Homo sapiens: one gene and its partners. The protein of the gene in region 1 purifies or fractionates together with the protein of each later gene. This does not show direct contact. Each region holds a gene or a part of one and is shown in the gene's direction. Other genes may lie near its edges.

The links. Proteins that work in one complex are often made in the same cells at the same time.
Region 2: the proteins of POGLUT3 (region 1) and SUCLA2 fractionate together in Homo sapiens (co-fractionation; one large-scale study listed by BioGRID). This does not show direct contact.
Region 3: the proteins of POGLUT3 (region 1) and ABHD10 fractionate together in Homo sapiens (co-fractionation; one large-scale study listed by BioGRID). This does not show direct contact.
Region 4: the proteins of POGLUT3 (region 1) and NIT2 fractionate together in Homo sapiens (co-fractionation; one large-scale study listed by BioGRID). This does not show direct contact.

Annotation. Positions count from the first base shown.
Region 1 is NC_000011.10:108,495,260-108,500,065, reverse strand, and holds the start of POGLUT3 (protein O-glucosyltransferase 3 isoform 1 precursor), read left to right. Parts: upstream 1-1,681; 5' UTR 1,682-1,699; coding exon 1,700-1,901; exon of another isoform or gene 1,902-2,105; coding exon of another isoform or gene 2,106-2,265; intron 2,266-2,847; exon of another isoform or gene 2,848-4,806. UniProt on the Homo sapiens protein: Protein glucosyltransferase that catalyzes the transfer of glucose from UDP-glucose to a serine residue within the consensus sequence peptide C-X-N-T-X-G-S-F-X-C. Can also catalyze the transfer of xylose from UDP-xylose but less efficiently.
Region 2 is NC_000013.11:47,952,774-47,956,614, reverse strand, and holds part of SUCLA2 (succinate--CoA ligase [ADP-forming] subunit beta, mitochondrial precursor), read left to right. Parts: intron 1-2,057; coding exon 2,058-2,219; intron 2,220-2,332; coding exon 2,333-2,475; intron 2,476-3,841. UniProt on the Homo sapiens protein: ATP-specific succinyl-CoA synthetase functions in the citric acid cycle (TCA), coupling the hydrolysis of succinyl-CoA to the synthesis of ATP and thus represents the only step of substrate-level phosphorylation in the TCA.
Region 3 is NC_000003.12:111,991,106-111,993,868, forward strand, and holds the end of ABHD10 (palmitoyl-protein thioesterase ABHD10, mitochondrial isoform 1 precursor), read left to right. Parts: intron 1-271; coding exon 272-616; 3' UTR 617-2,263; downstream 2,264-2,763. UniProt on the Homo sapiens protein: Acts as an acyl-protein thioesterase that hydrolyzes fatty acids from acylated residues in proteins.
Region 4 is NC_000003.12:100,358,416-100,362,135, forward strand, and holds the end of NIT2 (omega-amidase NIT2), read left to right. Parts: 3' UTR 1-3,220; downstream 3,221-3,720. UniProt on the Homo sapiens protein: Has omega-amidase activity. The role of omega-amidase is to remove potentially toxic intermediates by converting 2-oxoglutaramate and 2-oxosuccinamate to biologically useful 2-oxoglutarate and oxaloacetate, respectively.

The DNA of each region.
Region 1 (4,806 bases):
AAAATTTACCGGCAACTGACTACCAGTTCCTGAAACCTTTCCAAAGTACAAAGAATACTGTCCATAACCACTGCTTAGCATTACTAAAATAGGTCAAGAGAAGTGTGAAAATGTGGGAAAGATTTTGCCCTGGTAAAACTTGGTCACAGCAAGAATGCTGAGTAGCACGGTTAAAGCCGTGAGGCGGACAAAGGCTTGTCCAGTGCCTGGCTCTGATGTTTTGGGCATTAAGTTCCCCCAAGAGGGTGCAGAAATCCTGTGTCCATTCTGGGGTGTGAGTTCCTTCTGGATCATTCAGCCAGAGGAGAATCTTTATTGGCTTTAAATAAATTCAGATCTATTAACAATCCATTAACAAATTTGTATCCATTAACAAATTGGATAAAATGATCAAAAAAGAGAGGCAGATAGTAACCTTGACAATCTCTTCCTGGATCCAGCGTTCATCTTCTGAGGAGTGGTGGAGGTGGCTGAGACCAACCACGCACCACCACCCCTTCTCCCACTTCGATTACAGAGGCTTTGAGGTAAAGCTCGCACAAGGGCTCAAGGCAAGGCCTGGTCTTCTGCCACCCCAGTGCCCAGCTCCTCACTCTGGGCTTGGCCCAAACTCCGTGGATGTTCTGTAAACACCTGCTGGAAGAAGAGGAGTGCGGGAGGAAGCGGGGAAAGGGATGTGTGGGGTGGGGGGATCACGGTTCTGTGAGGGAGGCTGCTAAGCAGAAAAGCAACAAAACCGGCCACAAGAGAACGGTGCTGCTGTGAACAGAGGGCTGTGAGGGAGGGCGGGGGGCGTGACCTTGGCGCTCATCTTGTAAACTCGGAGACATTCCTTGGGAAAAGATATTTCCCTAAACTACATCGATCTTGGGGCCGGACCCTTTCATCGTCCCACAACAATCACCACCGGGTCTACGTCCTTTAAAAACACCTGAGCGGCGGACCCGGTGGCTCATGCCTGTAATCCCGGCACTTTGGGAAGCCGAGGCGGGCGGATTGCTTGAAACCAGGAGTTCAAGACCACCTTGGGCAACATAGGGAGACCCCGTCTCTACAAATAGTAATAGTAATAATAATAATAATAATAATAATAATAATAATAATAATAAATTAAATTAGCCAGCGTGGTGTCGTGTGCCTACAGTCAGTCCCAGCTACTCGGGAGGCTGAGGCGGGAGGATCTCCTGAGCCCACGAGTTCCAGGCTGCAGTGAGCTGTGGTCGCGCCATTGCACTCCAGCCTAGGCGACAGAGCCAGCCCCCTTGTCTGTATAAAAACAGAGAAAGAAAAGAGAAGAAAGAAGGAAAGGAAGGAAGAAAAAGAAAGGGAAAGACCACTGGAAGTGGAGGCCAGGCGTGCCTGAAGCCTTGGCAATCAACAGCCAGCGCACACTCGCAGCCTCGGTCTCTGGGCGGGCCTCTCCACCCCTTTCCTCCACGGGGCCTATGGGGCTGCGGGGAGGAAGGGGCGCACCCATCGTCGACCCCTACAGGGCGCGCAGTGGGTGATTGCGGCACTGGCTCGCGTTCCCGCCCGAGGGAGACGAGGCGGGACAGCGGGCGGGAAAGGGAGCCTGCGCCGCAATCTTTCCCGCCCGAAAGACCCGCCCCGCGGTGGGCCCCAGTCCCCGCCCGGTCCGCGGCGCTGCCGGCCCCTCCTCGCCGCCGCGGAGCTGGACCGCAGTTGTGCCCCGCCGACCATGCGCCGCCTCCCGCGGGCCCTGCTGCTGCAGCTGCGCCTCGCCCTGCTGGTGGCCGCGGGGGCCCCGGAGGTGCTGGTCAGCGCGCCGCGGAGCCTGGTGTGGGGGCCCGGGCTGCAGGCGGCCGTCGTCCTGCCGGTCCGCTATTTCTACCTGCAGGCGGTCAACTCGGAGGGCCAGAACCTCACTCGCTCTCCCGCAGGTAGTGTCCAGCCGCCGGCCTCCCTCGTCCCGCGGCCGGGTCCCCGCGCGTCCCCGCCGCCCGGGAGTCCGCCCGCGGCCTGCGTGGCGTCCCTCCCCGGCGTGTGTCGCCCCTTTTTGGGTCTGGTCAGCTCCTCTTCCCTCCTCCCGCCCATACTCAAAGCGGGCAAAAATCACCACGAAAGTTTGTGGAATGAATGAATGAATGAACTTGAAGGGCCCTTCCGCATTTAATGTGCAGGGACTGATGTTGCGAATGGACGGCGCCCGGGCGTTACAAGGAGTGTGCCGTGAGTCACACGTTGCCTTCCATCTCGGACTTAGTTGTCTGAACTGTGAGGGATTGCAGGGAGCGCTTTCCAGTGGTGAGTCATCAAGCCGACGGATCGCGTCGGATTACATGGCTTAGGCCTGGTGGGTTTGGAGCAACGAAATCCTACGCAGAGGAAATGTCAGAGCCGTAGGAAGGAGGAGGGGTTTACGTGTTAGTTTTTTGTTTCCTTTTTAGTTCTGAGTTTTTGAAAGCAGATTACAGGAACTAGGGAAACTCAGTAGAAATCATTCGGTTTTCCCTCCACGGAGGGTGAGATGGATCTCGTCCTGAATCCCTTTCTGCCCGGTCCTCCTCCCACGTTGTCCTTCACGTCTTAACCTTTGCAACTTCTTAAAACTTGTCCTGCTGGTTTCACGCTGTTGTCAGTCAGGATTTGCTAATGTATAATTTGGGGCTCTGGCCAACTAGCACCTTGTTGTATCAGCGAAGAGACAATTAGAATAAACCAGTGCCTCTGCCCCTGCTAGTCCAGCTGGGAACATAGCTGCCAGAAGTGTGTCCCAACTTGGGAAAGGGGTAAGGGGGTCTTGACAGCTGGGCAAAGCAGAGAATTTAGGAACCAAACATAATTCACTTTTAGATTTAATGATTTTTAAAATTTCATTCATTCAAGAAATACTTCTTTGATGTCTACTTCTGTGTTTGGTAATTCTGCTGGGAATCTAAGGATGAAAAGACAATGCCTGACCATCAAGGAACTTACAGTCTGTTGGTCAAAGACATGCAAATAACTGATCACTGTACAAGATAATTGAAGGTATGTACAGAGTGCAGTGGCAACATTGAAGCACTGCCAGAGACTGGAGAAATCCAGGAAGATTTCAGGAGCAGAGACTTGAAGGATGAGAAGGTTTGCTGGGCAGGCATATAGAAGGACGCCATGGCATGTGCAGAAGCACAGAGGCGTAGGAGACCGTGGTGTTCGGGAAAATAAGTACTGTAATTTAATGATACTGAGCGGAAAAGCCTGGTTGATTGTAGCCTCTGGTCTTCAAGCGCCTTGAATGCCAAGCAAATGACTTTATAACTAGATAAAAGAGAGCCACTGGAGAAATTTGAGCTGAGGCAAGAATCTGCCTCTCCCTTAACTACCTCAGTGGCTTGTTTTCTACATTTGATTCAGAACACCACTCCTGAAGTTGTCTTTGGGCATTGCTTTGATAACGTGTCTACCAGTTAGACCCTAAATACTCAGACAACTGGTTTCATATGCATGATATGCATTTAGGTAAAATAATTCCGACTCTATTGACAGAAACGCATGTGTGTATATCAGGGTTTCACAAACTTTTTCTTTAAAGGGCCAGATAGTAAATAATTTAGGCTTTGTAGGTGATATCATCTCTCACATTTATTCAGCTGTGCTTTGTAGCCATGGACATATAACAAACCCGTTTATGTTACAATAAAACTTTTTATGGCCACTGAAATTTCAATTTCATATAGTTTTCCATAAGTCACAGAATATTATTATTTTGATTTTTCTCCAACCCCCCTCCTCCTTTTTTTTTTTTAAGAGACAAGGTCTTTGTCACCCAGGATGCAGTGCAGTGGTACAGTCATAGCTACTGCAGCCTCAAATTCCTGGCCTCAAGGGATCCTCTTGCCTCAGTCTCCCCAAATGCTGGGATTACAGGCATAATCCACCATGCCCATCCCCATTTTAAAAATATAAGAATCATTGTTAGCTTACAGGATTTACAAAAACAGGCACTGAGCTGGATTAGCTAGTTTGTCAATCTCTAATGTATGTTAAAGACTCTCAGTTAAAATCCAAATGATACATGACTTAAAGTTGTGTATATGTTTTATATGTACATATATTATATATACATAAATATATTTAAACAAACGAAAAAGTTTACAGACAGTTTCTATTAAATATCTTAACAGAAGGAAAGTTACATTTATGATTCTGCATGGTTTACCCCTGTGATCTGTGACTTTTCTTTTTTTACCTTTTTTAGTCTTAGAAAGACTTCTCAGCCTGGGCAACATAGCAAGATTCCATCTCTACTTAAAATAAAAATTTTAAAAATTACCTACTTGGGAGGCTGAGGCAGAAGGATCAGTTGAGCCCAGGAGCTCAAGGTTGCAGTGCATTATGATTGTGCCACTGCACTCCAGCCCGGGCAACATAGCAAGACCCTTTCTCTAAATAAATAAATAAAATGGAACTTTTTGGACAACCTTACTTTCATTCCTTTGGATTCCCTTTGTTTCCTTTCAGGCCTCTTGATTTCTGGCTTCCAGTTAAAAAGGTGCCGTATAGTTCTGAAAACTCACCCAACTAGTTTCTTACATTTCTGCCACCAACATTCACTTCCAAGTCCTGAAGTCTTTCCCTCTTCAAGAACCAACTGAATAGCTGGTTATTCATGCCTTGTAATCTCAGCACTTTGGGAGGCCAAGGCTGGTAGACTGCCTGAACTCAGAAGTTTGAGACCAGTCTGGGCAACATGGCAAAACCCATCTACCAAAAAAATCCAAAATATCAGCCAGGCGTGGTAGTGCACAGCTGTGGTCCCAGCTACTGGGGAGGCTGAGGTGGGAGGATCTCTTGAGCCTGGGA
Region 2 (3,841 bases), on another chromosome or scaffold:
GAACTTTCTGTAGCATTTCTCTTAGCACAGGTCTGCTAGTGATGAATATTGTTTCCATTATTCTGCAAATATCTTTATTCTGTCCTTCTTTTGAAGTATATTTTCACTGGATATAGAATCTTGGCTTGATATATTTTTCTTTCATCACTTTTTTCCTGTCCCATTCTCCTTTTCTTCCAGTTTCACATTAGACTTCTTGATATTGTCCAAGAGGTCACTGAGGTGCAGTTTCTTTTTTCTTTTTTTTTCTTCCTGCAGATTGGATAATTTCTCTTTGTCTTCAGGTTCACTGACCCATCACCAGTCTGCTGTTAAGTTCATCCAGTGAATTTTTTATTTCAGATATTATACTTTTTAGTTCTGGATTTTCCATGTTGTTCCCTTGTTTTATTCTCTGCTTAGATTACCTGTGTGTTCATTTATTATGACCATATTTTCTCTTAAATCCTTAAACATGTTTTAAAAAGTTTATAATAGTCTTCTGATTATTCTAAATTTGGGTTACTGTGGGTTTGGTTTCAGTTGACTGTTTCTTCTCTTTACTAGTGGTTACATTTCCCCGTTTCATTACGGATCTAGTAAGTTTGACTCATACACTGTGCATTTTGGGAGCTATGGTGTAAAGACTGAATTCTGTTATCTTCCTCTGAAAGAATATTGACTTTTGGTATTAAGGGTACTTAACTTAGCTGGGCTCCAAACTTTTTCTCCTGTGTTGGGCAGCAGCTGAAATTGCTTGCTTCTTTCAACCCTGTATCTTTTCAGGAGCTGCAAGGAGAATGTTGTGGTTAGATTGGAGTGAGGAAGGGGTAGGGTACTGAAAGGTGAAGTCAGAGAGGTGACCTTTGTTAAGAGCCATTTTGGTAGAGTGCTGGGAGTAAAAGCCTGATTAGAGTGGGTATAAGAGAGAATGGCAGGAAAAAAATTTGGTACAAGGAGTTTAAGCACAGGGGTTGGCATTTAATAAGTATTTTAGGCTTTATGGATCACATATAGTTTTTGATGCTGCTGTTTTGCTTCTTCTTCTTCTCTTTCTTTTCCCCTTTTGACTTCATAATCCTTTAAAAGTGTAAAATCCATTCTTAGCTTACAGGCCATTTGAAAACAGGCACAAGTTGGGCTCAGTTGCTCACACTTTTAATCTCAGCATTTTGAGAGGCTGAGGCGGGTGGATTACTTGAGGTCAGCAATTCGAGACCAGCCTGGCCAACATGGCAAAACCCTATCTCTACTAAAACTACAAAAATTAGCTGGGTGTTGTGGTGCATGCCTGTATTCCCAGCTACTCGGAAGGCTGAGGCATGAGAATTGCTTGAGCCTGGGAGGTGGAGGTTGAAGTGAGCTGAGAGCATGCCACTGCACTCTAGTCTGGGTGTGAGAACGAGACCCTGTCTCAAAAAAATAAAAAATAAAAACAAGCACAGGCCGAATCTGGCCATAGTTTGCTCACCCCTCTATTTCTTTTTTTTCCCCAGAAACCCTTGTTCTGAGACCCCTCTTTTAATTAGACAAATCTTCAAGGAGTTGCTATGTAGTAAAGAGTAAGGGGGAGATAGGAGTTAAAAGATTTTTTTTTCTTTTTATTAAGGTGAGGAAATAAAACTGTTTTAGCAAGTCGGCAAGATTTAGCCAATAGAAAGGTAAGGGGTGGGGGGAGGCAGATTTATAATGTAGGGGAGACAGAATTGCTGGAACATTATTTTTGAGTAGAGGAGAGGGGATGGGATATGGGGCCCAAGTGATGGGGTTAGCTACGAACAAGGATAGTTAATTTTTGACAATTTTTAAATAATTTAAAATATTTTTGAGGTTTTCTTTTTCTTTATGTAGTGCATAGCATGGATGTAGACCCAATAACTTTGATGGGGCAGTTTTAATTCCCAAATATTCTTTTTTAAAGAACAGTTTGAATTCATAGTGAACATAAATTGAAATATTTTCATTAAGTAACAAAATTAAAATGTGTCTTTTCCCTAAATGAAAGACCATTTGACTATTTGATACTTTATTGTATCTGTCTTGAAATTAAGGTCATTTTTCTCTTTTTCCCTTCAAAGTATTGTGTATGGATGCAAAGATCAATTTTGACTCTAATTCAGCCTATCGCCAAAAGAAAATCTTTGATCTACAGGACTGGACCCAGGAAGATGAAAGGGACAAAGATGCTGCTAAGGCAAATCTCAACTACATTGGCCTCGATGGAAATATAGGCTGCCTAGGTACCATGTGTTTTTATGTTAGAATTGGATTCACTAAGTTTAATTTGGATTTACTAAGTTTAATTTATTTTCTCTGTGTTTGTTGCTTATACAAATCATTTTCCCCTATATAGTAAATGGTGCTGGTTTGGCTATGGCCACAATGGATATAATAAAACTTCATGGAGGGACTCCAGCCAACTTCCTTGATGTTGGTGGTGGTGCTACAGTCCATCAAGTAACAGAAGCATTTAAGCTTATCACTTCAGATAAAAAGGTAAGGGCAGGGCTTGATATATTTTTATATCATGTAAATATATAAAATAAATACTTATAAAAATGTATATTTTTATGTTTTAGAATTTAGAATTCATATATATGTCTTTTAATATATATTTTGAGTCTTTTTTTGCTATCATATCTTGAAGATTTTTGCAATTCACCAAGAGACTCTTCTGAAACACTCATTTTAATGTTTGTGTAATCTGTCATTATAGATGTGCCATAATTTAGAACTATGTGTTTATTAATGATTATCAAAGTATAAGGGATGTGAAGTATCATAATTCAAAAGACATATATATTATTAATCACTAGATATTTGTTAAGGAGTGTATCTATTGTGTGGCCAGTGTAGATTTTGTAAGGCTTACAAAAAAGATAATAATCTCTGTGGAACTATTCTTACTGGATTTAAACCGAGAATTCTTCACTGATAGGGATGATATCTTACTAATTGTTGCTTCTCGTAGTGTCTGGTATAATGCCCAGTACATATGTAGGTCATTAATCAATATTTATTATTGATGATGCTGCTGGCAATGTATATTTTTATTTGTGGTGTTAGACCGTAGAATTGTTTAAAATATAAATTTATTTCAATGCCTTTTCCTTTGAGCCTACAGCCTTATTTTCCATATTTATTAATTTTGCAAGGAGGATTAAACTAAATGAGATGTAAAATGTGCATTATTTCCCTTGTTTAGTAATTACTAAAACAAGTAAACATTTTATTAGAACTATATTTCTATAGCTTCTTTTGACAAACTCGAGAAGCAGAGTATTAAAGACAATCTAATTATCTAACTGTTGAGTACTTACTACTAGAATTGAGTTGAGTACTTACAACTAGAATTAGAATTCTAGTTGTTTATTTTTCTAAGCATGGCTTTTAGGGCCCAGGTGCAAGAATGGAGAAAAGTATATGAAGAGTTACAGTGTAGGGGACTGACATGATGGGCGTCAGAGTTGGAAACAGAATGGTAACCCAGGGTGTCAATGTGGATAGCATTGAAGTGGCCATATATTTTGTGATGGTCACTGTGCTTGGACTTGGAAATACATGGGCCCTTCTCTTAAGTTACTTATAGTTTTACTGGGGTGATTGACACAAAGTAGTGCTGTGGAAGAACAGAGGACAGAGGCAAAAACTGGGAGAATCAGGGTGGCCTTCACTGAATGGATGATACCTTAAGCTGTCTTGAAAATTAAATGAGGGCAAGAGGAAGAAAATGTACAAAGACATAGAATCCAGAGAGGGCCATTATGTTCATGGGGTGGTAAGATGCTTATGTGTAAGAATATGGCATTATTGGGATAAATGATAAGAGATAATGTTGGCAAATTGTGACCACATTTGTGAA
Region 3 (2,763 bases), on another chromosome or scaffold:
CACAGTATTTCATTTATCTAAACCATAATATCCTCTTTTATAAAAATAGAATAATAACAGAATTATTATCAGAATCTTATGGAATAATATGTATAAAATACCCATCACAGTACCTTGCATGTAGTAATTATTGATAATTATTATTGTTATACTTTTGTTATCTCTATCCTCTTATTCAAGAACTGCTTTCATTAGATTACTTAAAACTATTGCATGTGTTAATGTTGCCTAAAGTCACAAATACTTTTATTTTTCTTTCTTTTTCCAATAGCTAAAAAAGGAAGTAGAGATGAAAGGTGTGTGGAGCATGCCATCAAAATACTCTGAAGAAGGAGTTTATAACGTTCAGTACAGTTTCATTAAAGAAGCTGAACATCACTGCTTGTTACATAGCCCAATTCCTGTGAACTGCCCCATAAGATTGCTCCATGGCATGAAGGATGACATTGTACCTTGGCATACATCAATGCAGGTTGCCGATCGAGTACTCAGCACAGATGTGGATGTCATCCTCCGAAAACACAGTGATCACCGAATGAGGGAAAAAGCAGACATTCAACTTCTTGTTTACACTATTGATGACTTAATTGATAAGCTCTCAACTATAGTTAACTAGTATCACATGTTTAGTTGGTATGTAAACTAATGTATCCAGAAGATTGGAAGAGGGATAAGAAATGAAAGATCCTGATACTTTAGGTTTTTCCCTTTCCTCTATTTTGTAAATATAAGATGAGTATTATTTAATGATGTATTTGCATAAGTAATGCAAATTGTGAAGAAGGACCAGCTGCTGTTTAGAAAATTTTCTCCTTCCTTCTGTCCTTGATTTTTTTTCATTAAAGTATTTCCTTTTTTTAATTCAAGAAAAGTTTACCTTTCTTATGCTTATGTTAGCTATGCCAGCTCTTAATTGCATCCTTTTCTAATTAGGATTATTAATAAAGCGTGAATATTTTGTTTTTTATTATAGACAGAAATTTGTAACATTACTTCTGATTTGAAAATGCAATTCACAAAATATAGGGAAATTTTTATTGAAGTAAATTTGAAATGATGGAGAAATTTCAGAAGCATAATAAAGTTCACAATAAGGATAATACTTTATATAATGTATAAAGTATATATAATATAATATATATGTTATATAAACTGCACATTATATTCAAACTTAAAATTGAGCTTTTTTTTTAAAGGCCCAAAATTGTACAGTGATACAAGGAGCTATTTCTAAAATTTGGCTTATGTATAATATATTTAAATGGGGAATTTCATCTAAAACAATGATGTAGTATTTTTAATATTCTGATTGGTAAAATTAAAGAGGAAATTAATCTTTATATATTATTTCTTGCAGAAACATTCATTATTTTATTAATATTGCCCTAAGTACAACTAGGCAAGTGATTGCCACCTAAATCAGAAGACGTTCTAAAGTCAGTAAGAAAGTGTGAAATGCTAGTATAAAGGTTATTTTTTTTCTTTCCTAAATAACTAAAGTGAGGTGTAGATTGAGCCTTGATATTATTTAGTTAATGTTTTTTATTAATTAATTTTGGCTGGACTTTATTTAGCTTGATTAGGTTATTATCTGTCAAACCTTTTAAGTTGACAACATGACTCATATATATACATGTGTATAAGATGAGCATGTGTCGAAGACTTATTCGACTCATTAATGAGGAAACCAGCAGATAGTAAACCTGGTTCAAAGTACAATTCAAGAAACTGAGTATTTATGGGCATTGAAGAAAAAATGTTGAGATAAAATTGCTGTGCAGAAAAAAGTGTTAATGAAGCCGACCTGACTACTTAACCTTAGAGACCTGCTTTACAAGGTTGGCCCTTGATTGGCATCTGGGAACTTGGAGTTCAGGGGGCTTCCACCATTCCCAGAACTGATCAAAGTAGCTTACTATATCTAAACTGTAAAACAATATAGTTTCTCCTGAACACCTGCTTTCCTTCTGGGAGTCTGGAATTTTGGTATGTGCCAGGCAGAGACTACCTTTGTGACCAGCTCCCAGTAAAAACCCCAGGCACTCAGTCTCTAACAAGCTTTTCTGGTTGACAGTGTTTCACAAGTGCTGTTACAACTGGTTGCTGGGAGAATTAAGCTCATCCTCTGTGATTCCACTGGCGGAGGATTCTTGGAAGCTTGCACTTAGTTTCCCCTGACTTCACCCCATGTGTCTTTTTTCCTTTGCTGATTTTGTTTTGTATCCTTTCACTGTAATAAATCATGGCCGTGAGCAGAACTGTATGTGGAGTCTTATGAGTCTTCCTAGCAAATCTTCAAATTTGGGGGTGGTGGTGAGGGCCTCTCCACAGATACAAAACTGGTTTATGTCCTACGGGGCAATTAAACTACAATCCATGGGTTATCTTTTATACTGGACAAAAATTACAAACAGCAAAGATAAATCATCTATGAGTGCCACAGTCTCTGGTGCTGGAGTGGGTTGATAGAAGATGGCACTGGCTATTCAAGGACTTACTTTGCCTAGACATTGCTAGGTGTGAGGCTTGTTAGGAACATGAAGGCAAGGGCCCTTGCCAATGATGGTTTTCTGCGCAAAATAATAAATATGATTTGAGATTTATAATACATATGTAGAGACAGTATAGCATAATGGTTAAGGTCAGAGACAAGCTTGGTTTTTAATTTTGGCTCACCATTTACTAGCTCTGTGACTGAGCAGTTAACCTCACTGAGTCTCAGTCTCTTCTGTAAAATAACATAAACCTAGATAATGCGGTGTA
Region 4 (3,720 bases), on another chromosome or scaffold:
TTTTTTGTTTTTGCATAATACTTTGAAGTCTGCTATCACAAGTTGTGAACCTCTATCTCTTGCAGTTTAGGTAAGGCAACACATTTAATGAATTCACATTTAAGTGAATTCCTCACAGGGATGACGACCTCTGTTGAAATAGGTCAGGATGTGCAGTTTGTGGTGAAAGTTCTACTTGACTTTGACCTAGCTGTTTGAAGCTGAGAGCTAACAGATAATAAGTGTTGCACTGGTTGCAAATGAATAAATAAGTAACATTATGGGGTTTTAAATGACCAAGGAGTAGATTGTGACATCGACTGGGTATTTAGGGAAGGACTCCTTCCTGATACCAAAAGTTAGGTCTGTGCAAAGTACACCAAGTGGAAAAAAGTTTAGACAAGAGTTTAGGTTTCAAGATAAATGTTCTGCTCTATTGGCACTGGTTTTAAGTCTTTTGTGCTACTTTTTAGGCATTGCTGTGTAAGTTTTGGTGGTGCGTGGGTACAATGAAGCCAGGAGGGATAGAAAGGGAAATGATGTGTGTGCTGCAGGCTAAACAGGGGCTCTTCCTTATGCCTCATAACCACCTGTGTGTGACAGTTTCACATTTCCTATCAAATTATTATCTTCATTCATTTCTACTTGTGAATGAAGTTCGGAGACTAAGAAAAAGCCAGCTGTTGGAATAGAAAGCACTTTAGGATAAAATGGTCTTGTTAAAATCACCAATTAAAAAGTTAAGCCCCTGATGTACAAATAACTAAAACACATACATACAAAGACAGTGCTTCTTGTTCAATGATTTACTTCACAGCTGATTCATAATCAAATGAACAAGAATCTGCAAGAACAGAACATGGTGGGCAGGGTCCAGTAATTCCAAATGTTGTCATCCTAGCTCTTCCTGAAGCATATTGAATCCTCCAAGTATATCCCGTTGTGCTAACTAGGCTTTAAGTCTTTTGTCTGTAGATTCATTCTCAAAGTTTCTCCCTCAGAACAAAGAGCACGCCATCCTGTAAAGTACTCTTCCTGATTTTTTTTCACCCAATTTCTTAGTTTCTTTCAATTGCTTTTCAGACCCCGGCAGGCAGATTCTGCCCTCATCTGTCCAGTGACACTCTTCTGGCAGATTACTAAAGACCGATTTGTAGACCTGTCCATGTGGCCTCTCTCAACACCATTGGTGTGACCTTGCTCATACTGCCTCTCTCACCACTTAACATTGTCCCTTAGATGTTAAAGGCCCTTATATTAATAGTTTTATTTTAGCTCCTTTACATTTTATTTTGTCCTGAGGAATCTCAGCTACATGCATGGTCTTCAATATATGCCGATAATTCTCATTCACATAGCTCTCCTGTTGGCTTTTCCCCACTCGTTTAAAAACAACCACTTCACTTTGCTGGACTCTACCTTGAATGCCTCATTTTCAGCTCACACTCATGCTGTGCCTTTATTTAGATTTGTTGTGGTTGTTTCCCCACATTCTGGAAGCTCCTTACCTAAATCCTGTTTATTCCTTAATGCTTAGCACAATTTATTACTCTTGTTTCCATGGCACTACATTGTACTTCTGTTTTAGAGACTACCTTCCTCTGAAGCATATGACAGGTTCATTTACTATCCAGCCCACCAAAACTCAGTTTTTGAGCTCCTCTATGTTCATCTTTTTATGGCTAACCCTCACCATCATGAGTGCTTAGTAAATGTTGAGTTGGAATGAATTTATTCCTACAGGTTGCACTTGCTCTCTCACCAAGTGTTCTGGCCAAATAATTCTGGAATGATTTCCTTACCTTAAGGGAGTCTGATCTGGGAAGAGCCTGGGACGTGATGTAACTTCATATGCTGTAGAGCTGAATATTCATTTACTTAAGATCTTAGCTCCATTAGAAAGCAGTGAAAGCAGTGTTAATTCAGAGGCCGGGTATGGTGGCTCACGCCTGTAATCCCAGCACTTTGGGAGGCCAAGATGGGCAGATCACTTAAGGTCAGGAGTTCAAGACCAGCCTGGCCAACATGGCAAAACCCCATCTCTACTAAAAATACAAAAATTAGCCGGGTGTGGTGGCACATGCCTGTGATCCCAGCTACTCGGGAGGGTAAGGCAGGAGGAGGTTACAGTGAGCCAAGATCACACCACTGTACTCCTGGGCAACAGAGTTAAACTGTATCAAAAAAAAAATGCAGTATTGATTTAGAGCTAAGGTCACCTGATGCTCAGGCCAGTAATTTCTCCCTGCATCATGCTGTTGTCTAAGGCAGACACTGTAAAGCTCTACACTGCTGAAAAACTAAGCTTGAGATGCATAAAAGAACACATAGAGATGGGGAGTCAGTTCTCCATACATTTTGTGAGTAGAGGCATTGGTGTTTTGTTCCAAACTATCCAATCGAGAATGTTCATATAATGACAGCTTTGGAAGGTAGAGACTATCTTCCTCTGGATCATAGGACAGGTTTGTTTACTATCTGATACAGTCAAAATAGTGTTTCCCTCTAATGCGAAAGTCAGGCCAGTTTGCTTGTGACCTCATTAGATTTGGGCTGTGACGCAAACCCACTGCATGTGCAGTATCCACCTAGCTTGCCCTGTGTCACTCCCATGGGATCTGTGGCTCAAACTCATGTTGCTTGCTATGTTCTAAATAATTAAGTCTGTTGTCTGACCCAGGAGTCTCATGTCTTCTGCCAGCATTCAGAAAACTAGTTTTCAAGAAGGGTAACATCTTAGACCTTTTACAGCTCTTGACACAGAGCAATATTGAGAAATAAAATCAGGTAAAAGTTATTTAATATAGCAGTTCATAATTTAGGCCATGGATCATCTCTGCAGAGAATCCTACCATGCTGCATTCTTGCTTTAAACCTTTCGCCCTCTAAAACAATGCCCAAGAGCCAATGTTAGTCATGGTCTTCCTGTATTTGCTCTAGGTAAGCTGTTTCATAGCCTTCCAGGACAACACTTGCACAGGTTATCTTTAAGCACCAACAAAAGAAATGGAGAAATTTGAGCCATGTATCCTGAGCTCTGAAAGGCAGCAATCATCTTGACCCCAAGCATACACCATGTTCAGCTTCCTCCCCTTGGCCAGGTACCACAGCTACTTCTATCCCAGTGATCAGCAGGCCCTCCAGCATGAAGACCTTTGAGAAGGATCTATAGCTGTCAACTCCTAATATGATTTGTGCACTATCACCTTGAAGTAAACCAGACTAGTTATTTTCATGCTAAGAGTCTGAAAACAGTGCCTTCTTTCTGATGTCTCTTGTAGAATATTGGCAGAGGGATCTCAATTTTTACTTTATACCTGAAGGGCAGCTTTTTGGTCTGATAGTTATAGTGCAATCATTCATATTTTAAATCACAAATACCCCCACTTGTTGATGAAAACTCCAGTCTGTGGCATGGGTGTACATTCACTGCCTAAACCATCTTTGGCCAAAATTTGTGTGTATATGAAGTCATTCTACTTTAGCATACTCAAAGGCATTCCTTTAAACCATTTATCTGCTTGTACACAATAGCCAAAGGAATATTTGTTACTATGGCTGATGTAATAAACTATCATCACAAATTTAGTGGCTGAAAAAAAACAAAGTTATTCTCTTTTACTTCTGGAGTCCAAATTCATGGGGCCAAAATGAAGGTGTTGGCACTCTGCTCTAGGGCAGGATCCGTTTCTTGCCTTTTCCAGTTTCTGGTAGTTGCCAACATTCTTTGGCTTGTGGCCA